3 linked regions of the Homo sapiens genome follow. The protein of the gene in region 1 purifies or fractionates together with the protein of each later gene. This does not show direct contact. Each region holds a gene or a part of one and is shown in the gene's direction. Other genes may lie near its edges.

What was found.
Region 2: the proteins of RAB30 (region 1) and VPS13C purify together in Homo sapiens (affinity purification with mass spectrometry; 2 studies listed by BioGRID and IntAct, with this or other methods). This does not show direct contact.
Region 3: the proteins of RAB30 (region 1) and TRAPPC10 purify together in Homo sapiens (affinity purification with mass spectrometry; 2 studies listed by BioGRID and IntAct, with this or other methods). This does not show direct contact.

The regions. Positions count from the first base shown.
Region 1 is NC_000011.10:83,068,887-83,076,721, reverse strand, and holds the start of RAB30 (ras-related protein Rab-30), read left to right. Parts: upstream 1-4,824; 5' UTR 4,825-5,031; intron 5,032-5,259; exon of another isoform or gene 5,260-5,390; intron 5,391-7,835. UniProt on the Homo sapiens protein: The small GTPases Rab are key regulators of intracellular membrane trafficking, from the formation of transport vesicles to their fusion with membranes.
Region 2 is NC_000015.10:62,050,441-62,057,464, reverse strand, and holds part of VPS13C (intermembrane lipid transfer protein VPS13C), read left to right. Parts: intron 1-7,024. UniProt on the Homo sapiens protein: Mediates the transfer of lipids between membranes at organelle contact sites. Necessary for proper mitochondrial function and maintenance of mitochondrial transmembrane potential.
Region 3 is NC_000021.9:44,085,292-44,092,315, forward strand, and holds part of TRAPPC10 (trafficking protein particle complex subunit 10), read left to right. Parts: intron 1-1,510; coding exon 1,511-1,669; intron 1,670-2,407; coding exon 2,408-2,637; intron 2,638-4,541; coding exon 4,542-4,642; intron 4,643-6,631; coding exon 6,632-6,758; intron 6,759-7,024. UniProt on the Homo sapiens protein: Specific subunit of the TRAPP (transport protein particle) II complex, a highly conserved vesicle tethering complex that functions in late Golgi trafficking as a membrane tether.

The DNA.
Region 1 (7,835 bases):
TGGGAGGCAGAGGCAGACGGATCACTTGAGGTCAAGAGTTCCAGACCAGCCTGGCCAACATGGTGAAACCCCGTCTCTACTAAACATACAAAAATTAGCCGGGTGTGGTAGTGCCTGCCTGTAGTCCCAGCTACTTGGGAGGCCGAGGCAGAAGAATTGCTTGAACCTGGGAGGCGGAGGTTACAGTGAGTAGAGATCGCGCCACTGCACTCCAGCCTGGGCGACAGAGCAAGGCTCTGTCTCAAAAAAAAAAAAAAAAAAAAAGTAATCTGTTAGATCTGTTAGCAAGATTATATGATTACATAATGGTACACTTGATGGGAATTAGGAACATACCGATATATTCCTGTATGAACTCAAGTCACTTAACCAGACCACTTCCTAAGCTGTAAAGAGGAAGCTTTGAATATTAAATGCTTATCTGAAACCATTTGGAAAAGCAAAGTTTATTAATACCACTCTGAAGTATCTGAAGCTCATACTCAATTATTTAAATTAGGAACTTAAGCTCCTCTATTAAAAGGAAAATGTGTATTTTCTTGTTGAAACATAAAATATAAAGCACATTTCATGTGTACTACTGTCTTAAAAATTGAGAGTCCAACATTAAAATTAAACAAGTATTGAACTGCATTATACAAGAAATCAAAATCATGACAAAAAAAATCCACTGTTTAAAGAGTAAAGAGAAACAGTGGTGAGCTTGCTGTATCATTAAAGACACTGAACAGGTAAGATAATTGGATTCTAATTCTGCCCTGCCTTTGCCATCAATGTACAGTGTGACCACTAGCAATTTTTAATTTCACTGTGTGCATGCCCATTTCCTTATCTGTAAAACATGGGCTGAGGAATTTGTAAGATTTCTCAGCTCTAAAAAGGGGTCTCTGTGACCTAAAAGATACTCTATTATAATATCATTTGTTCAAAGATCATAAATATTAACATCAATAACTTAAAAATTCAAGACTTAGGGCAAGAAAATTTTTATTTTCAGAAAATTCTAAACAATATATTGTCTCTGGATACTTCAGCTTTTAAGTTTCTGCATAACTATCATAATTTTACCACAGCGTTGAGCTCTTACTAGGTGTCTCTTAACATTAGACTTTCTTAATATTAGGCTAAACCCTCATTCTAAGAAATATACAGGTTAGTCAGGATATCATGGTTGGTCCCTTTTTTTTTTTTTTTTTTAAACGGGAGTTTTGCTGTTATTGCCCGGGCTAGAGTGCATTAGCACAATCTCGGATCACTGCAACCTCCGCCTTCCAGTTTCAAGCGATTCTCCTGCCTCAGCCTCCCAAGTCGCTGGGATTACAGGCACCCGCCACCACACTCAGTTAATTTTTTGTATGTTTAGTAGAGACGGGGTTTCACCATGTTGGTCAGGCTGGTCTTGAACTGCTGACCTCGTGATCCACCCACCTCGGCCCCAAAGTGCTGGGATTACAGGCGTGAGCCACCGTGCTTGGCCCGGTTGGTCCTCTTAAAGCTAAAACTGATCTCATCTCCTCTCACTCCCCTCTCCCTCCCACAATTGCCATGTGTAAACCGTTCACCAGGTAAATTCCTTATCTACACATTTTCAGAATTCATTCATGGGTATAATTAGCAATAAACCTAAAATCTTTCTCAAAGCTTTTGTTATTGTGTGACTTACTGCAAAAATACAAACACAGGATGTAGAGGACTACTCCACCCAACTCTTGTAGACTCACCTATAGTTTTAAAAACACAATACTTGGTTCTAACCCTGGAGATTTCAACAGGGATGGGAAGGTAACAGCCATATACTTTTAGAGCTGTATAGGTTATCCTGACACCTCTACTGAAAAAAACCCTTGCTCTAACAGCAATTGGCTTCATACTCTTAAATGAGCTACCTATAATTTTAATACAAATCCATGTCCTAATTCTCTTTATTATTTTTTTGAGATAGGGTCTTGCTGTTGCCCAGGCTGGAGTACAGTGGCTCAATCTCTGCTCACTGCCACCTCCACCTCCCCAGTTCAAGCGATTCTCCTGCCTCAGCCACCCTAGTAGCTGGTATTACAGGCGCACGCCACCACACCTGGCTAACTTTTCTATTTCTTGGAGATGGGGTTTCGCCATGTTGGCCAGGCTGGTCTTGAACTCCTGGCCCCAAGTGATGTGCCCATCTCGGCCTCCCAAAGTGCTAGGATTACAGGTGTCAGCCACTGTGCCTGGCCCTAATTCTTTTTTGAGAGATGAAAAGCTTTACCTCCTCTAGATATTCCTAATTCCACTTTAACAATATTTTCCTAAGTTGTGGTGTTTCTATGGGACACTGTTATTTTTTCAGAAGCTGGCCTCCCCAACTCCTCAAATATCAATTTTATAAATAAAATTTATAATGAGTGCAGGATTTTTTCATCTTTATGGTCAGATGTCCATTAGATACAAGGATAGAAAAACTTCAAACTACCCAAACACATGACAAATTATAGAAATCACTGTATTCTAGAGGTATCACTTCTCAAACACAAGCTTTCTTTCTTTTTTAAAAACAGACATAGTCTCACTGTTGTCCAGATTGGAGTACAGTGACACAATCATAGCTCACTGCAGCCTCAAACTAATGGGATCAAGTGATCCTCCTGCCTCAGCCTCCCAAGTAGCTAAGCCTACTGGCATGCACTACTATGCCCAGCTCACACAGAAGGTTTCTGAGTAATCTGTTGCTCTTTTTCCCTACAATTTGTCTTCCATATAACTCAAACTGACAAGGCTATGGCTTACATAAAGAAATATATTATAAATCAACAACACTCATGATAAGTTTACATAAGACATGAGAATACACCTGAATCACCAACCGGGAAAAATGATTGAAGAGCTTGAAATTAAGCCTAAGTGTAAGTCTCTGTTAAGCTTACAACATTACAATAGTTAAATCGAAGGTTAGAAAGAAAATGGTAGACATTGCTCCTTTTCCTGTACTTACCACCATTACTTAGAGAAGTTTCTGAATAACAACAACTTTGAGCCTTTTTCATTGTTGTATTCATGGATGACACCAACACATACTACTTCTGCTTAAAAATCAAACTCATTCATCTTGACTTGTTCCCAGAAACATGACACAGAAGATCATTTTTTGAAAAAGTATTTTTGTAATTACCATCTGCATACACCTGAGAGACTGTTTCTAACATGTTTTGGTCATTTTTAATCATTCTATCTGCCTTTCTTTGTTATAAGGATCTATTTTTAATTTTATTCACTCCTAACATAGAGGGGAAGTGCATACCTTCAATGACGCAAAGTAACTAGTTAATGTTGTTTCAGAATAATATGCAAAAGGGAAGGGAGGAAACAGCACAAAGTATATCATATTTTTACACATCAGACACCTTCAGGAAGAAAGGACATTTCTCATCTTAGTGTGACAGACTCTGAAAAAGAACACACAGCACTGTTTCAGTGACACAAGAAAAAAAGTACAGTTCATTTTGAGATACTGTGCAAAATCACTCAAAAGACAATTAACTTTGGTTTCAGTCACTTAGTTAAAAAAAAAATTTATCCATGACCGATGTTACTCTGGAATCTATTGCCAGACGTCAGAAGGCCTATCATCAATAATATCCCACCCCTCCCGCCTTTTCTGAGACACGGGCTTGCTGTCGCCCAGGCTGGAGCACAGTGGTAGGATCGAGGCTCACTGCAGCCTCAACATCCCGGGCTCAAGCGATCCTCCCACCTCAGCCTCTAGTGTAGCTGCAACTACAGGGGTACACCACCATGCCCAGCTAATTTTTTTGTTTAATGTTTTTGTAGAGACGGTACGGGGTCTCCGCATGTTGCCCAGGCTGGGGTTGAACTCCTAGAATCACGCTATCTCCCCGCGTCTGCCCCCAAAGTGCTGGGATTAAAGGCGTGAGCGACCGCACCTGGCCAATATCCCCTTTGAACATCTGCTTTCGCTGGTTGGTAAAAAAGTGTCATTTTAAATTTAGTGTTACTCCTTCAGGCTATTCCCTCTCTCTTCTTACTTGCAGGGCCAAAGCAACGTCTCTTTCCACCTTGGTCACCTTCCAACAACGATTTCTTCGGACGCCTTTGTTAATCATTCCTGTATGAAAAATCAGTGAATCTGAAGCTTTGGGGAGAGTGAAAGGGGGTTGGAAAACAAACGGCAAAACAAAAATGCATTTCGGAGGACTACCCCAACTCTGTGGGTGGAAGTGGGCTTCTCCGAATAAAGGCGAGGGTCGCCGCCTCGGGTCCTCGCACCTCAACAAAAGACACCAACTCTCTCAACTGTACTGTTAACAGATCTAAATGATACTCCAAGCCCAAAAGTAAACCGACTCTCTCAATCTCTTAGCTAAAAAATGGAGAAGGAAGCGTAGGGCCCCATGCAACCCCTTCAGGAGCTGAGACCGAGGCTCACTGGGCCTCTGGATGCCGCTTCCAGTCGGTCCCGCCCTACATCAGTCCCCAGCATGGCCTCCACCCTCTGGTTCCCAGGTTCGTGCCCGCGGCTATCCGACCAGATCGTCCTCCACCTCACCGTCCCCACTGAACCACCACTTGACTCCTGCGCACCCCTAAAACCTCTGCCCGGCTCCGCGGAATCGTCCCAGTACTCCTAACATGGCGGCCGAGTCCCCTTTGCTCCTTCACTCTGGGCGCGTCCCACTTGGAGCATTTTGGGCATTGTAGTTTCGGGGATTGCCTGGGTATCCCTTCAGGACGTAAGAAGACTACAGTTCCCAGAAAGCACCGCTCCCGAGCATGGCTATTGGGGACGTTTGGACAGAGGGATGATGTCATTGCAAAAGCCCCACTGCATTCATTGTGCTACGGTCTCTCCACCCCCTGCTGCTGCTGGGCTTGCGATTGCCGCTCGCTCCAGCTGAGCTAAGTGTAGCAGCAGCACCAGGGCAGGGACTGACTCCAGCCCTTGGACTCAGGACATCGCAGACCTTCCCTTGCGTGCGTGACTCATTCGCACATCCATTTCTGTTTATGCCTGGGGTGGGGAGAAAAATCCCAAACCAGGTGAGTTGAAGTGATTTATTCAAATGCTTCTACCAAGTTATTCCTCCCGCTTAGTTCTCAAGGCTTTCTTTTGGGAAGCTGTGAGCGGTGGGGAGGTGGGGGGGATTGGGGAGAGGCTTGCAGGCACAGCTAAGGGGAAAAGCTCTGTGCCATTTGGGTCACTGCAAAGAACAACTCCAGCAACCTTCCCCCGCCAGAGGACGGGTGCCTGCCAATTCCCTAGTCGCAACTCCTCTCAACCTTTTTGAGGCGGAGAGAGGGGGCTGGGCTGGGAAGGATGTTGGGGAGTGCTCTTGGAAAATCTGAGGAAGGCAGAGGTGGGGGACTGCAGTCCTGTCACACACGGCCCGAGAGCTGAGGTTTGAGTGGGAAGGGGTGATGCGTGGGGAGAAATGGAGACAGTGAATTAATGTGGTCGCACTACTTTAGAACATTTGAATGTCGCTTGGACGAGCACTAGTTATTAATTTTTAAGATGAACGTGCTTAAGTTTTGTAGGGCTTTATTTTATGTGTGTATGTCTATGTGGTTTGTCTCGCCTTTTCTGCTGATTTGAGGTGACAGTGTCCTTTAATGGTGCACTCCGTGCCAGTCAGAAACATTTCACGTGTCTGGCGAAGGTTCTTTCAGGCTGCTGGAAGCAGCGTTTTTGTTAAATGTTTTCCGTTCTCCGACTGCTGGATTCAAGATTGTTTGGAAGTGGAGCCGACAGATTTGTGCTTGTGTGTTTTAAATTACATTGCATAGGCTCTTTGCCACTGACAATGGTACCATAATGAGCTGCTGTTTCCTGAGGCATAGTCACTACTCACAAATAACGGTTTGAAGAGATCGATTAGGGAAGAGGGGTTCATTTTAACACATTAGAGAAAGGGAAAGTTAGAAGCGCTGTTAACCTTCATTTGCCATTACTGAAAGGTGCCCATGGAAGAGTGATTTTGGTTGTTTTGTTATTGTTGTTTTTTTAAACGAACTGACATTTAACAGGAGAGAAAGCATTCTGACTTACATGATGCTCTTGTAAGAGTTATAGGGATAATTAGGGCAATAGATATGTTACTTTGAGATAAACAGCTGGCTGGCTCCACAACAGATGGGGCCAGTCTTGGCTGAGAGATCTACACCCTTGGAAATGAATGGGCCTGGGGTCAACCACACCCCCTCTTGGAATGTCAAAAGAAGGAGAAATGCCAGAGTATTTGCTTAACTCTAGAATGCTAAACCTTTTCCTAGCTGAGTCAGACATGGGCGAAATTCTTTACTGGCTGTCTTCTGCTGCTAAGCCAATTTTGTTCATTTTAAATTCAGATCCTTAGGTCTCCAAAGTTGTAGCTGTGTGATATTTCATTAAATGCTGCTTGATGCTGAATGCAAAGGACAGTCCATTGTATGGGCTTTGTAGTAGAGTGATTTATTGGGATGCCAATGAGCAGCTTTTGGATTTGGGAAAAGATCAACAGTTAGCCTTTGCCTCTGCGTCTCTCTGTTGATGACGCTCTGCTCTTCTGGACACCCTACCCTTCTCTCCTGTACTTTCATTTCTTCCCCCCACCCCACCCCATCCCACCCACATCTCTTGAAATTCTGTTTATTTCTCTATCTCTCCATTTGCAGTTTACATTTTTCCTTTCTGTTTCAAAACCCCTCCTTTATCACCAGCATATCACATCTCTTTCTCTTCAATCTTAGAACACACTCCCTGGTCCTCCACTTCAACTAGGAACTCCTGGGTGGATGTAGACTATGTGAATATTTTTGCAGAATCCTCTTTGAAGAGAATTTCTTTGCCTTTTCTTTTTCTTGCAGTCTGTGCTTGGCAGGATGAGCAGCAATGAGCCTGACCCCTGGTCTGGTTTGTAGTTCCTGTGACAGACATAATTTAGCCCCAGCAGCATGTGAACAATGAAATGCTGCAGTTGGGCTCATGCCACTTTTCCTTTCACTGGCACCTGCCTATGGATTAGCAAGGTTTTTAAATGCTCTACATGAAATGTTCTCATAATTCCCAAGGAATAAGTAGTCTTCAAGTGGCTTGCCTTATACAATACATTTTTTTTTTCCTTATCCTTGCTGCAGCTGGTGGTGGGAAGGCTGATCTTTCCCCCCTCTTTCTTCCTGTTCCCTGTGGATTGCTGAGTAGCAATCCAGGTGGCCAAACTGCCCATTTGGTTTTTTGAAGATACTTGGAGGACAACAGTTCCCCACCCACCCTGGTTGTTTCTTCTCCTCTGTGCAGGAAAGAAGTTTGTTATTTTATTCTCTTCTCTTAACGGGAAGAGTGTGATAGTGGCTATATTTGTTTATGTAACAGCAGTGCTCCTCTAGGTGTGGAAAGTCTAACTGCTATCCATCTGGAGGCAACTAGTGTAACAGGCAGATTCAGAAGCTGTCCTCTTAGACCTTTTATGCACCATCTTCTCATTCCTAATTTTCTTCTTCTGAAATACTTCCTTACCCACCAAAGTTTCTTTTATTGTCCTAGGGAGGAGAAATGGGCTGAATGTAGTGTTAGATTTGGCCTCATCACTGCTGTCTCTGGGACCTTAAATAACTATTCATTTCTTTCTGCTTCGGTTTACTTATTTGCAAAGGGATAATGATCCTTGCTCTTTGGTTTACTGATGTTATAGCCCTCTATAATCTGGCCCCAACCTATAATTCTGACAATTTATATTGATTGAGCAGCTACCATGTACTAAGCACTGTGGATACATCAGTGAAAACAAATGCTTTCCCTGACTTCATGGAGCTTATATTCTAATAGGGGATATACTTAATAAATAATTGCAAGTGTGATGAATGCC
Region 2 (7,024 bases), on another chromosome or scaffold:
CTAATTTCTCAATAAAATTGGAAGGCAAGATATCTGAGTTGATTTTTCCTGTTCTTTCAAAATATTGCTAAAGAAATTTGTCTTAAACTTTTTTGGGTAAACAAATGGGAATATTAATTTAATAAAATAGGTGACATTTTATGATAACCATGATGTTGACAAGTTTTACAAAAAATTGAAAATTCTATATAATCTTCTTTGACAACTATTTGCTTTAGCAGATAAGGTTTACAGTTCACAGAGTTTTTTTTTTGTTGTTGTTGTTGAATTTTCAAGTCTTGAGAAAGGGAAGAATTCATCTTGTAAATATTTCACTGTAGGGACCAGCCCCACAGGGTCGGTGGGTCTCTCCCTGTGTGCGGCGACGAGAGAGTGTAGAAATAAAGACACAAGACAAAGAGATAAAAGAAAAGACAGCTGGGCCCGGGGGACCGCTACCACCAATGCGCGGAGACCGGTAGTGGCCCCGAATGTCTGGCTGCGCTGTTATTTATTGGATACAAAGCAAAAGGGGCAGGGTAAAGAGTGTGGGTCATCTCCAATGATAGGTAAGGTCACGTGGGTCACGTGTCCACAGGACAGGGGGCCCTTCCCTGCCTGGCAGCCGAGGCAGAGAGAGAGAGGAGACAGAGAGAAAGATAGCTTATGCCGTTATTTCTGCATATCAGAGACTTTTACTACTTTCACTAATTGACTACTGCTATCTAGAAGGCAGAGCCAGGTGTACAGGATGGAACATGAAGGCGGACTAGGAGCGTGACCACTGAAGCACAGCATCACAGGGAGACGGTTAGGCCTCCGGATAACTGCGGGCAAGCCTGACTGATGTCAGGCCCTCCACAAGAGGTGGAGGAGCAGAGTCTTATCTAAACTCCCCCGGGGAAAGGGAGCCTCCCTTCCCTGGTCTGCTAAGTCGCGGGTGTTTTTCCTTGACACTTTTCGCTACCGCTAGACCACCTTCCGCTCGGCAACGGGCGTCTTCCTAGATGCTGGCGTTACCGCTAGACCAAGGAGCCCTTCTGCTGGCCCTGTCCGGGCATAACAGAAGGCTCGCACTCTTGTCTTCTGGTCACACCTCACTATGTCCCCTCAGCTCCTATCTCTGTATGGCCTGGTTTTTCCTAGGTTATGATTGTACAGCGAGGATTATTATAATATTGGGATAAAGAGTAATTACTGCAAACTAATGATTAATGATATTCATATATCTCTAAGATCTATATGGTATAACTATTCTTGTTTTATATTTTATTATACTGGAACAGCTCGTGTCCTTGGTCTCTTGCCTTGGCGCCTGGGTGGCTTGCCGCCCACCTCACATACCTGATCTTACTATTCTTTGGAATCAATTGATAAACTACTTTGATACATCTTAACTGGAATGTCTAACTAGCCTAAAGCAGTGATTTTCAGTGGGAGGTGACTTTGTACCCAGGGTATATTTGACAGTGTCTGAGACTTTTTGGTTGCCACACTGAGGGAAGAGGTGTGCTATTGGCATGTAGCAGATAGACCCTGGAGTACTGCTAAACATTCTACAATGCAGAGGACAACTTCCTGCAGCGAATTGTCCAGCTCAAAATGTTAGTTGAGAAACCCTAGTCTAAGAAGAAGACTGAGATTGTCTTCTGCATTTGTAAGGGACCTACTGGGTGCTGAAAAAATTGTAAGGTTTTAAAAAGGACACGGAAGAAGTAGATTACTCTTAACGAAATCTGTAATTCGAGAGAGAAATTGATATCTTAAGTGACTGAAAGGTATCATGTCAATAAAAATGCGTAATCTTTGCTTGGATGATCTTTGGAAGTAGTTTTAAGATCGAAATATTGTGTTAACATGATTTGGAAAACATCATAGTGTGCATATATTCATATATGTATATATAGGCGTTCATAATGAAATTTACAATTAAAAAAGGTTGAGAGGCCAGGCACCGTGGCTCACACCTGTAATCCCAGCACTTTGGGAGGCCGAGGCAGGCAGATCACGAGGTCAGGAGATCGAGACCATCCTGGCTAACACAGTGAAACCCCGTCTCCACTAAAAAAAAAAAAAAAAAAATACAAAAAATTAGCCGGGCATGGGGGCAGGCGCCTGTAGTCCCAGTTACTCTGGAGGCTGAGGCAGGAGAATGGTGTGAACCTGGGCGGCAGAGGTTGCAGTGAGCAGAGATTGCACCGCTGCACTCCAGCCTAGGTGACAGAGCGAGACTCCCGTCTCAAAAAAAAAAGGTTGAGAAGGTTGGGGAAAATTACTGGAATGTCCAGAATCAGGAAGTATACTTTAGATGTTGCCTTTAAATTTGAGAAGCAAAGCAAACACAGCCTACCATTGTCTTTCTGTTTCTGTTCTTTAAAGATTTTATTTAATGCCAAGCAATTCTTATGTATTTTTAAAAGTAGTTTAAGCAGAATTTCCTTTTAAAAATCCTTGCCACTGTAGATAATTGAGACCTTGGTTATTTATTAGCTGTGGGACCCTGGGCAAAACATTTCAGTTCTCACTCTCGTAATCTGTAAAGTGGATATACAACTTTCAGTGTATTGTTGAGATAGATTATGTCAAAAACCTTTGTCATTGTTGATAATATTGATAATAATAATGATTAACAAACCTGGCTGGGTGATGGAAAACAGTCTTTGTTTTATTTTCATAAGGATGTTTCTTCTAACTTCAGACTTTTAGAGGTATTAATATTCTTCTTCTTCTTCCTCTTCTTTTTTTTTTTTACTTCTACTTTAAGTTCTGGGATACATGTGCAGAATGTGCAGGTTTGTTACATAGGTATACATGTGCCATGGTGGTTTGCTGCACCTATCAACCTGTCATCTAGGTTTTAAGCCCTGCATTATGTATTTGTCCTAATACTCTCCCTCCCCTTGCCTCCCACCTCCTGACAGGCCCTGGTGTGTGATGTTCCCTTCCCTGTGTCCATGTGTTGTCATTGTTCAAATCCCACTTATGAATGAGAACATGTGTTGTTTGGTTTTCTTAGAGGTATCAATCTTCTATTGAGTGATAATTTTGTGTAGAGCTATCATTACATATCTAAACATTTCTTATTTTCCAAACAAATTTCTTTTAAAAAAAACCTCTATTTGCCTTTGAATTTATGCTTATGCTTTTACAGTATTACCTGCCAGCTAGTTTGTAAGTCAGGCTTTCAGAGGTTCAGAAAAGTGCCTGGTGGGTACATACTGCCTACATAAGTAGGAAGGTTTATCTAGATTTTTGTTCCCCACAAACTGGTACCAATAGATAAATTTCACAGCCCTTAGCTATTGAGATGTGTCCAGGATATAATTGTTTTAAGAGTAACATATATTTGAAAAGGTATGTTGAAATGCCTCATCTTTTGCAATATGATTTGAGTAGTATTGTTGCAATGTAGAACCTTTGTCAATTTGATTTTTCAAAATGATTTACTGTGGAGAGTCAGCAGGAAAATCCTCCAGTACTCGGAACTCTGTTGTTCTTAATTCCACTGGACAGGTGGAATCAACATAGGAACTGTGATGTGTTAGATACAAGGGTGACTCTGGTGACCAGGAATAGAAGCCAAGTGCAATGCCCTCAGAATCTGTGGCCCTGCAAACCAGACTGAACCCGTGCTGTTTATCCCACTCCTGACAGTTTATCCCACTCTTGACACTTCCCCTTGAGCTGCCAGATATTGTTGGAGCAGTGCAGCATAAGAAAGGAGAATGAACACTGGACTGGGAATGAGCAAACCTCTTTAATCTTATTCCATCTCTGATTCTGTCTAGTTGTGTGGCTTTTGGCATGTCTCTGACAAGTGACCATTGGTTGCTTATCTGTAAGTGGAAAGGTTAGACAAGGTCATCTCTTCTGTCTTTAAACTTCTGTGATTTGAGCAAGGCAAGAACAACGTGAGATCCTTCATTGGATGAGTGGTACTGCCACTTCCTCCGCATTCATAGAGAGAAAAGGTAGTTAAATAATGTATCTTTATCTTTCCTTTTTGCTCTTCACCCGATATTGGTGAGTAAAGAGCCACAGTCAATGACAGTGACAAGATAAATGAAGTTCCAGGCTCATGCTGATATTTGTGGGTCCAAGTGTAATATACTGTAATATATTGTCTTAACAGGTACCTGTAGGGCAGCTTGAGAATGAAAGAAAAAGCAGCTCTTTTTGCTTTTTTTGGCTTTGACACATAAAAGATGTCAGTATCTAGGTATTTCTAAACCTGTAGAGGGATTTTCTTTAGTCTTTTCCTCCCAGCCAGCACTTGGTGTAGTGGAGGCCACATTTCTCATTAGCTTGTCCTATGGCATATAAAAGTAAACAATAATGAAAAGGTCATTAGTGTAATACATATTTAGGCTCAGTTACTACCAGTTAAAGCGGTGCTTAAAAATTTAAATTTAAGCACCTGTTCACATATTTAAGTAGCATTACTAATTAAAAATTAACTCCTTTTCTAGAACTAAAACTGAGAATTGGTATTTTGGTAACCATTCTGCTAGGAAGCTCTACCACATTACTCAATATTATGGGATCCCTGAAGTGAACTGAAAGGGAGAAAGTTCAGTGGTGATGTTGCAGCTTTCTACCTTCCTTTGTCAAAACTTCCTGTTTCAGTAGGGAAATGGGAAGAGTGAGAGAGTTGTTTCCTTTCTCTTTCCTGTCTTCCTCTCTGAAGACAAAGTCACTGTGAACTCATTAAAAGGAGTCTAGATTGGTTAATTTGGGTTGACTAGCTAGATTCATTTGAAATGAATAGCTATAATATTTTCTTTGGTATTCTTTTTTTTTTTTTTTTTTTTTTGAGACGGAGTCTTGCTTTGTCGCCCAGGCTGGAGTGCAGTGGCACAATCTCGGCTCACTGCAAGCTCTGCCTCCTGGGTTCACGCCATTCTCCTGCCTCAGCCTCCACAGTAGCTAGGACTACAGGCACCCGCCACCACGCCTGGCTAATTTTTTTGTATTTTTTAGTAGAGACGGGGTTTCACCGTATCAGGATGGTCTTGATCTCCTGACCTTGTGATCCACCTGCCTCAGCCTTCCAAAGTGCTGGGATTACAGGCGTGAGTCACCGCACCAGGCCTGGTATTCTTTACTAAAACATAAATCATTAAAATAATTTGATTCATGCTTTGCTTTAAAAAACTGTTCAGTCATCTACTTTAGCTCACCTCCCTGGAAAATGAATTGTGTCAGAACATTCAGATATGCTTTCAACTAAATAATGTTTATGTTATAGATACATAAACAAAATCTTAAAAAATAAATACAAAGCATTCTTTATTTCACTATTCTTTATATGCAAAGCTAGTTTCATGGATTATGGCATGGCATTTTTGTTTGTTGGATGGTTTTTGTGTTTAATCACAGTTTTGGATTAACCTCTATGTTTTATATTAAGAAAGTTGACCTAGGAGTTGGGAGACATAGATTCTATTCTTAGTACTGCCACAAAAAAATTGTATAACCTTGGATAAACTACCAGATCTCTTTAGACTTTAATTTCTTCATGTATAAAGTGAGAGGGGCTTAGATTTGAAAATCTTTATGGTCCCAAATAGTTCTAAATCATAACTTGTGAATTTCTGTCTTTTGAGGAAAAAAATAGATTTTTAAAAAGTACTAAAATGACCATTTTGTAATACCATCTCCTGCATCTGTTTTTCCCTGTGGCACTACGTTTTCTTCTGGTTATGCTCTGAACATAACCCCCTTGACTCTATCCTACCGTTCTGCCTGTGCCCTTGTTATACTAATTTTAGTTATCCTTTTTGTTTTGGATTTTTTTACGTCTCTTTGCAAATACAGAGACCAAAAGTGGAACCGACAACCACGCTGGCCTGTGAATGCTGAGTCTGATTCTTTTATGGCATTTTTGTTGTCCAGGGAGGTCGAATTACCTTCTGAATTAAAATCCTATACGCTTTATGCTCTGCTATTCGGGAGAACAGTGTTATTCTGAAGATAGCATTGAGTTTTATAAGATTTGAGCCTTGAGACTGCCACTTACTATTAGGTTGCCATAGGATTCTTGGGCTAGTCATTTAACCTCTCTAAGCCTCAGCTTCTATTGCTTAATGTATACAACCTGTTTCTTGCCCAGGAGGCTGTGAGGATTGAGTAATGTTATACATCTGAAAGTGTTTTCTAAAATATAAAGATTTATGACCTTATTGTAGTTGGTTCCACCCCAGTACAATATGCATTCTGAAGTCAGTATTTATCGAGTACCTACTCTGAGGAGAATCAGTAAGAAGTTTATAATCAGACTGGGGATTTATATAAAGTTAAGTGTTACGCACCATAAGAAAGCTATAGCCTAAATTTCTGCAAAAGTTTAGAGAGATTATTTCTGGTTGGAGGTACTTAACAATAGGACTATATTTCTTACATTTATTTTGTAGGCCATTATGTATTTAAAAAGCCATTCTTGGACTTAGGCAGGCTTTTCCTTATTGTGCTAGTACCATTTGATTTTTATTCATAAATACACTAGCTTGGTTGTTTTCTATAACTAGCAACTATTTCTACTTTTTTTTTTTTGCGATGACTCCAACTCTTCATGTCATTTGCTAATTTACTTCCATTTTCATCTTCTGGTTCACTGTTGAAGAATACTAAATTTTGATCCAGTTTTGATCCAGGATTTACTTTTTTTTTTTTTTTTTTTTGAGACTGGGTCTTGCTCTGGCTGTCACTGAGGCTGGAGTGCAGTGGCATGATCCTGGCTCACTGCAACCTCTGCCCTTCTGGTTCGAGTGATTCTTCTGCCTCAGAATCCTGAGTATCTGAGATGACAGGCACCTGCCACCATGCCTGGCTAATTTTTTTGTATTTTTTAGGTAGAGACAGGGTTTCGCCATGTTGGCAAGGCTGGTCTCCAACTGCTGGGCTCAAGTGATCCAATCGCCTTGGTCTCCCAAAGTGTTGGGATTACAGGCATGAGCCACTCACTGCACCTGGCCCTTTTAGTATATTTCTTAAAATATCTTTCAAGATTGGCTTTGAAACTATGGTGACTTTCTAGCAGTGTATG
Region 3 (7,024 bases), on another chromosome or scaffold:
TGAAAACTACATGTGTATTTTACAGTGTCACATTAGGCCAAGAAGCAGCTAATGTCTACCACAGGGTTTCATAAATATGTATATAATTTCCTGCTTAGAAGTACGTTTCAAATGCTAAACACTAGATTTAGTTAGGATCTATACTCAGATCCCAGCACTTTGGGAGGCCAAGGCTTTGAGACCAGCATGGGTAAGCCAGTCGGGGCAGGATGACAAAACCCCATCTCTGCAAAATAAAAAAATGAAGTAAATTAGCTGGGTGTAGTCGTGCGCCACGGCCTCTAGTCCTAGCTACAGGCTGGAGCCCCAGCTGAGGCTCCTGCCTCAGCCTCCTGAGCCCAGGAGTTTGAGGCCTCAGGGAGCTGTGATTGCGCCACTGTTCTCCAGCGTGGGTGACAGAACAAAACTCCATCTCTTAAAAAAAAAAAAAGTTTTCCTTTGAAAGGGTTGATTAAACTTGTCCGTCTGGCATGGCATTTGAGAAATTCAAAGCTATTGTCCTTTCTGATAAGTTCTAAAATTGGAAGGAGTTGCTATAAACAAATGATTGAAGAACATGTGGCAGCTGAACAAGAGTGAGTGAATGTCTCCTTTGTTCGGGCTAGCAACGATTTATTTATTTGCCTGTTTCTTCTACGTGGAAAAAAATCACAAAGGGCATTTTTCTGTTATTCCCCCATTCCCCCTATTTTTCTGCATTTGTGCCTCTTGTGTGGCCACCAGCAAAGGCTGTCAGATGTGGGACACAGCAGTCAGTCTCTCCAGTGATTCTTCCATTGGAACATTGTGTAGAGAAGCTGAACTCGATTCCCGCAGGGGAGCCGAAGCACCAGCCAGCAGGCCCTGCCCTCCCCATGGCCCAGCGGCTGCAGTGCCAGGCTCATGGCCTGGCTCCTGCTTCCTGCCTAGTGTCCCCTGTCTCTGTCCACTCTCCCCCCGGTCCTGGTATCTTGCCTGCCTTCTGTCTTCCCTGCAGCAGGATTCTCAGAGGCCTCAGCTCACTCCTGCCTCTCATTGCTGTCTTGGAGTGAGGGGGAGCCACCTGACTGCTGACTGTTCTTAACCCAAAAGCCCGTGGCCTGAAGCTGAAAAATCCAGAGAAGGTTTTGAATATTTGAGCAGCACCAGCACAGTCAAGTTTTCTTTACAGTCTCTTCTTAAGCCTCATTATGTGATTCTCTTCTACTACTAATGGGCAGGCAAATTTTGTGACCCTCAGAGACGTAGTCATGATCATAATCCCTGACTTGCTGAACCAAGATGGGTATAAGACTCCTTGACTCACAGGATTCTTTTTTCCCCAGCAAGGTTCTCCTTCAACCCTGTAGTCCACATCATTGAGATGAAAAGTTAGGGCAGAAGGGAATGGAAGTAGAAGGAATTCATGGAGATCCCAAAGGAGCAAATCTTTCATAGTAAAAGAAATAGAGCCCCTTTCACCCCATTGCGGGCCCTGAGATGCTGTCTTCCGGTTGGCAGCGGTGCTGAGCCACGATCTCTTTTCCTTTAGATAGCCTTCTGGCAGGCATTCCTCAGAGAGTCAAGTTCACTGTCACTACCGGCCATTATACGATAAAGAATGGAGACAGCCTGCAGCTTAGCAATGCCGAAGCCATGCTCATCCTGTGCCAGGCGGAGAGCAGGGCTGTGGTCTACTCCAACACGAGAGGTGAGGTGCCGCCCACCCAGGCCCAAGGAGGATGCCCACCTTGCCCTGCACTGTGTGGGTGTGAGGGTGAGCCTGGCCTTGCTGCCATCCTGCTGAGCGCCCCTCAACAGTGTCTGGAGTCCGTGTTCCATAGGAGCCCTGCGGCCTGATGCCTGTGCTGGGGTCCCATCTGAGGTGATAAACTGAGAGTGGTTCACACGCTGAGTGGCCGAGCAGTGCTTGTCTGGCTGAGGATTAGGAGATGGGGGTCACGGCTGGGGTCACGTTCCATGGTGATGCCTGCCAGACCCTGTCCCCCTTGGGCTGGCCCTGCTCCCGAGAAGCAAAAGCAGAGCAGCCCTTGCAGGTGCTGTTGAGAGCCCTGAGCACTCCCATCCTCCCAGCCACGAGGAAGGGGAAGGGGAGGACCCTGCTCCCCTGGGGTGGGGGTGGATCTGCGGATGAGCTGGAACGGGAGAAAGTCATGCAGGGACCTACACAGGACTTGGGTGGGCCCCGTGGGAAATGCCCTTTTCCTCTCTTCAGATTGAGATCAATGATGGGTCTGGGCGCCTGCCTGCCGGCTTTCACACAGGGCTGCTCTGTCCTAGGGGCCTTGTTCTTGGGTTTGCCTGCCAGGTGCGCAGGAGCGGGAGAGGTTGAGCAGTGGCCTCACTGCTGGGCCATCACCTGCTGTAAGGAAAAGGACAAGTGAAACCGAGGGAACAGCTTTGAAGTGACTTTTTCTGTCCTTCGTAGAACAGTCTTCTGAGGCCGCGCTCCGGATTCAGTCCTCCGACAAGGTCACGAGCATCAGTCTGCCTGTTGCGCCTGCGTACCACGTGATCGAATTTGAACTGGAAGTTCTCTCTTTACCTTCAGCCCCAGCACTCGGAGGGGAGAGTGACATGCTGGGGATGGCAGAGCCCCACAGGAAGCATAAGGACAAACAGAGAACTGGCCGCTGCATGGTTACCACAGACCACAAAGTGAGTAGGGACAGTGGAGGAGCTTAGCTTGTGGGGCGTCCGCCGCCCGCCTGCCTGCTGGGAAAGGCGATGTAGCGATGCCTGCTGTTAGCCTGGCTCCTTCTGATTCCCGATGCCCTGGGCATGTGTTTAGCAGTTCTGTCTGTCTGTGAATCACCCTTTCTTAGATAAGGGGTGCATTTTTTGCAAGGGCAGAGACAAGCCAGCTCTACCTTTCCCTCTCAGTTCCAGGGGCCAGGGAGTTTGCTGTAAGAGGTTAGGGCCGGCTTAGGCATGAGGGGCGTAAAACTTGGGTCATGTCCATTAGACCGGTGACGAGGCCAGAGGAGGTCTGTGTCGTGTGTGCCTCGGTGTCTGTCCACTGAAACTCATAAGCTCAGCCACGGAGGAGCTGTCTCATTTTAGGCTTTGGTGCTGGTACTTACTGACAGTTACTTGAGAAAGATGTGATTTCGGTCCCAGAGCCACAGGATATCAGCTCATGGAATGTGTCGCTGCATCATGTTACTCAGGGTGTGCCCAAGTCTCGTAGCCCAGAAATCAATCCTGAGGGCCCTGAAACAGCCCAGGGGCCGCAGTATACGCCCAAGAGCAGCGGGGGCAAAGGGCAAGGCATGCCGTCTTTCCAAAGCACGGAGTCACCAGACAAGTCCACGCCTGAAGACGAATGTTGTAATGTTCAGCTTTTGAAGAACCTGAGGAAGTGTCTTTCCCTTAACTCACACAGACGTTCACCATTCACGAAGGTGGCGCTTAGCTCAGCAGGAGCGCGCAGCACTGGTGGCACCTGTGCTATGTGCCGTGTTATCCCGCTCTTCCCTGGCGCTGGTGGCACCTGTGCTGTGTGCCGTGTTATCCCACTCTTCCCTGGCGCTGGCGGCACCTGTGCTGTGTGCCATGTTATCCCACTCTTCCCTGACACTGGCGGCACCTGTGCTATGTGCCGTGTTATCCTCTCTTCCCTGGCGCTGGCGGCACCTGTGCTGTGTGCCGTGTTATCCCACTCTTCTCTGGCGCTGGCGGCACCTGTGCTGTGTGCCGTGTTATCCTCTTTTCCCTGGCACTGGCGGCACCTGTGCTGTGTGCCGTGTTACCCCGCTCTTCCCTGGCGCTGGTGGCACCTGTGCTATGTGCCGTGTTATCCTCTCTTCCCTGGCGCTGGTGGCACCTGTGCTATGTGCCGTGTTATCCTCTCTTCCCTGGCGCTGGTGGCACCTGTGCTGTGTGCTGTGTTATCCTCTCTTCCCTGGCGCTGGTGGCACCTGTGCTATGTGCCGTGTTATCCTCTCTTCCCTGGCACTGGCGGCACGCACGCTGTGTGCTGGGGTATTCACCTCTTCCCTGTGGGGAATAAGGCTTGAGACTTGCTTCCTTCCTGCCCTTAAGGGATGTAATAGCTTTGTCCTCACTGTGCCCCTAAACTGATTTGGTTTTCAGTTACATATTCAGCCTCACATGGATTAAATGCTTAGATAATTCATTAACTATGGAGTAGTTACTGATTGGCTAATGTCATCTGGAAATACATGACTGAAAGCACTTTGTCAAAACCCTGTGCACATTGCAACATGCATGGCTCCGCGGCCCTGCGTGTATGGGAGCAGCAGGTGGGTCTGCTGCTTAGAGGACGGCTGTGCTCTTCCGCCGTTGAGGTGACTCTGGTGATGTGTGCATGTCTTGCCAGTTCTGCGTTCGTTTCTCTTGTCTGTATGCATAGCTTCCTGTTTCTCGTTGGTTTGTGTATGTGTTGGGTAAGGCTTTGCTTCCTGGATAATGAGTGGTTGAAGCCATAATAAAATGTCTAGGGCGTGGGCGGGCACTGCAGGTGAGTCTGGGCAGCAGTGGTGGTGGCTGTGCTGTCCGTCGGCGAGTGGTCTGAGAGTGTCTTTGTGCTTCCTCCTCAGGTGTCGATTGACTGCCCGTGGTCCATCTACTCCACAGTCATCGCACTGACCTTCAGCGTACCCTTCAGGACCACACACAGCCTCCTGTCCTCAGGAACACGGTAACGGAGGCGTAGCGTGCGGGCCCTGGCTTCTTTCCCCAGACTCTTCTAAGTGGAGGTTCCTAATGTTCAAAACTGGCCTTCGTGGTGACCAAGGATGTCTTCTTATGTGACCACAAGGCCATTGTTTGTGTCTTAAAATCCACAATTCCCTGGTGTCCTGTGACATCCAGTTCATATTCAGGTTTTCCCAACTGTCTGAAAATGACCTTTTATGGTTGCTTTGTGTGACTTGGGGTCCAAAATCTCCATCAGACCACTAGATCTCTGTTCATCCTTTCTTCCCTGTTTTCAAGCCATCGACTTGTTCACTTGCAGGCCAGGTTTCCTCTGGACGCCCGCCTTTCTGGATCTGGCTGGATTTGTTAACTAGTTCTCCTGTCCCTGTATTTCTTGTCAATTGCCTGCAACCTCTAGAACAGGAGCTTTTAAGCTCAGCATTAGTGACATTTTGGGCTAGATAACTCTGTTGTAGGGGCTTTCCTGTGTGCTGTAGGGTGTTGAGCAGCACCCCAGGCTCTCCCATGAGATGCCAGTAGCACTCCCCACCTGCAGGTGTGGCAGCCACAGATGTCTGTAGACACTGCCCAGTGTCCTCTGGGTGGGGCGGACGTGCCCCAGTGGAAAACAGCTGCCCTAAAGGCTTGAGTAGACTCCAGTTCTGCTTTGAGGCAGGCGGGGCTGTGTGCTTCCTGTTGACTGCACCGGGAGGCCCACGGTGTCCAGGTGTCCTACCTTAGTGACGGTGCTAGCGTTGATCAATGGGCTCGGGATGCTAGCCTGGCCTCTCACCACAACTTTTTATCCATTGATGATGTGTGGATAATTTGGAAACAAAAACGTCAGACCCATGTTTAGAATGGAACATTATACTAGCAGCTTTTTTCCCCTTCAAATCACAGCAAAGGGAACTGTAGATATTAATAGTTAAAAACATCAATAATCTCTAAAAGAACCTTATTAAAAAATTATTTTTCAGCCGGGCGTGGTGGCTCATGCCTGTAATCCCAGCACTTTGGGAGGCCGAGGCAGGCGGATCACGAGGTCGGGAGTTCAAGACCAGCCTGACCAACATAGTGAAACCCCGTCTCTACTAAAAATACAAAAATTAGCCGGGCATGGTGGCGGGCGCCTGTAATCCCAGCTACTCGGGAGGCTGAGGCAGGAGAATCACTTGAACCTGGGAGGCAGAGGTTGCAGTGAGCTGAGATCGTGCCATTGCACCCCAGCCTGGGCGACAAGAGCAAGACTCTGTCTCAAAAAATAGTAACTATTATTAATATTTTCAAAGTTTTGCATGTAATGGAAATGGATATAAGCCCCGCCTATCATCTCTCAATGGAGAGTCTTCACCTGTAATGAGGAGGGCTGCTGCTGTCTCCCCGTGGCTCCCCAAAGGCCAGTGAGGGTGACCAGCCATGATCACTTAATAAGGCTGGTCAGAAACTATATTCTTTCTTCCATTGCCTCACAGAACTTGCCTCTTTAAAAACTTTTTTTATTTATTTTTATTTGTTATTTTTTTGAGATGGAGTCTCGCCCTGTCACCAGGCTGGAGTGCAGTGGCGTGATCTCAGCTCACTGCAACCTCCACCTCCCAGGTTCAAGCAATGCTCGTGCCTCAGCCTCCCGAGCAGCTGGGATTACAGACACGTGCCACCACGTCTGGCTAATTTTTATATTTTTAGTAGAGATGGGGTTTCACCATGTTGGCCAGGATGGTCTCAATCTCCTGACCTCATAATCTGCCCACCTCGGCCTCCCAAAGTGCTGGGATTACAGGCGTGAGCCACCGTGCCCGGCCAAAAAGGTTTATTTTCTGGCACTTTTCGGTGTGAAATCTGAAGGGAAACTTATGCAACAACTTAGCTTACTTTGCTTTGTTGCTTTTTTGATTCCCCAGGCAGAGAGGGTCTCCTTAACAAAGCTAAGATATATTTAATAAAGTTCTTACATATCAAAATAATACTTTTTGTTTTTCCACTTTAGGAAATATGTTCAAGTTTGTGTCCAGAATTTGTCAGAACTTGACTTTCAGCTGTCAGATAGTTATCTTGTAGATACCGGTGATAGTACCGACCTGCAACTAGTACCACTGAACACGCAGTCCCAGCAGGTAAACATTGTGTAGACCTGAGCATAAACTTCTCAACAGAGAACCAGAGTGTACGGAAATGATGTAGTATGTGTTGCGACTGAGCCTTTAGATAGAACAGCTGCACTGCTGATGAGTAAAGGCTCCTGTGCAGCTCCTCCGGCTGCCCTGAGGCTGGATCGAGGCTTGCTCCTGAGTAAGCGGGTGGCTGGATGGATGAATTCTTCTTTTTAGAAGAATTAAATCTGAAACTGGTCCCACTCTATGCGTAGACGTGTGCAGATCCA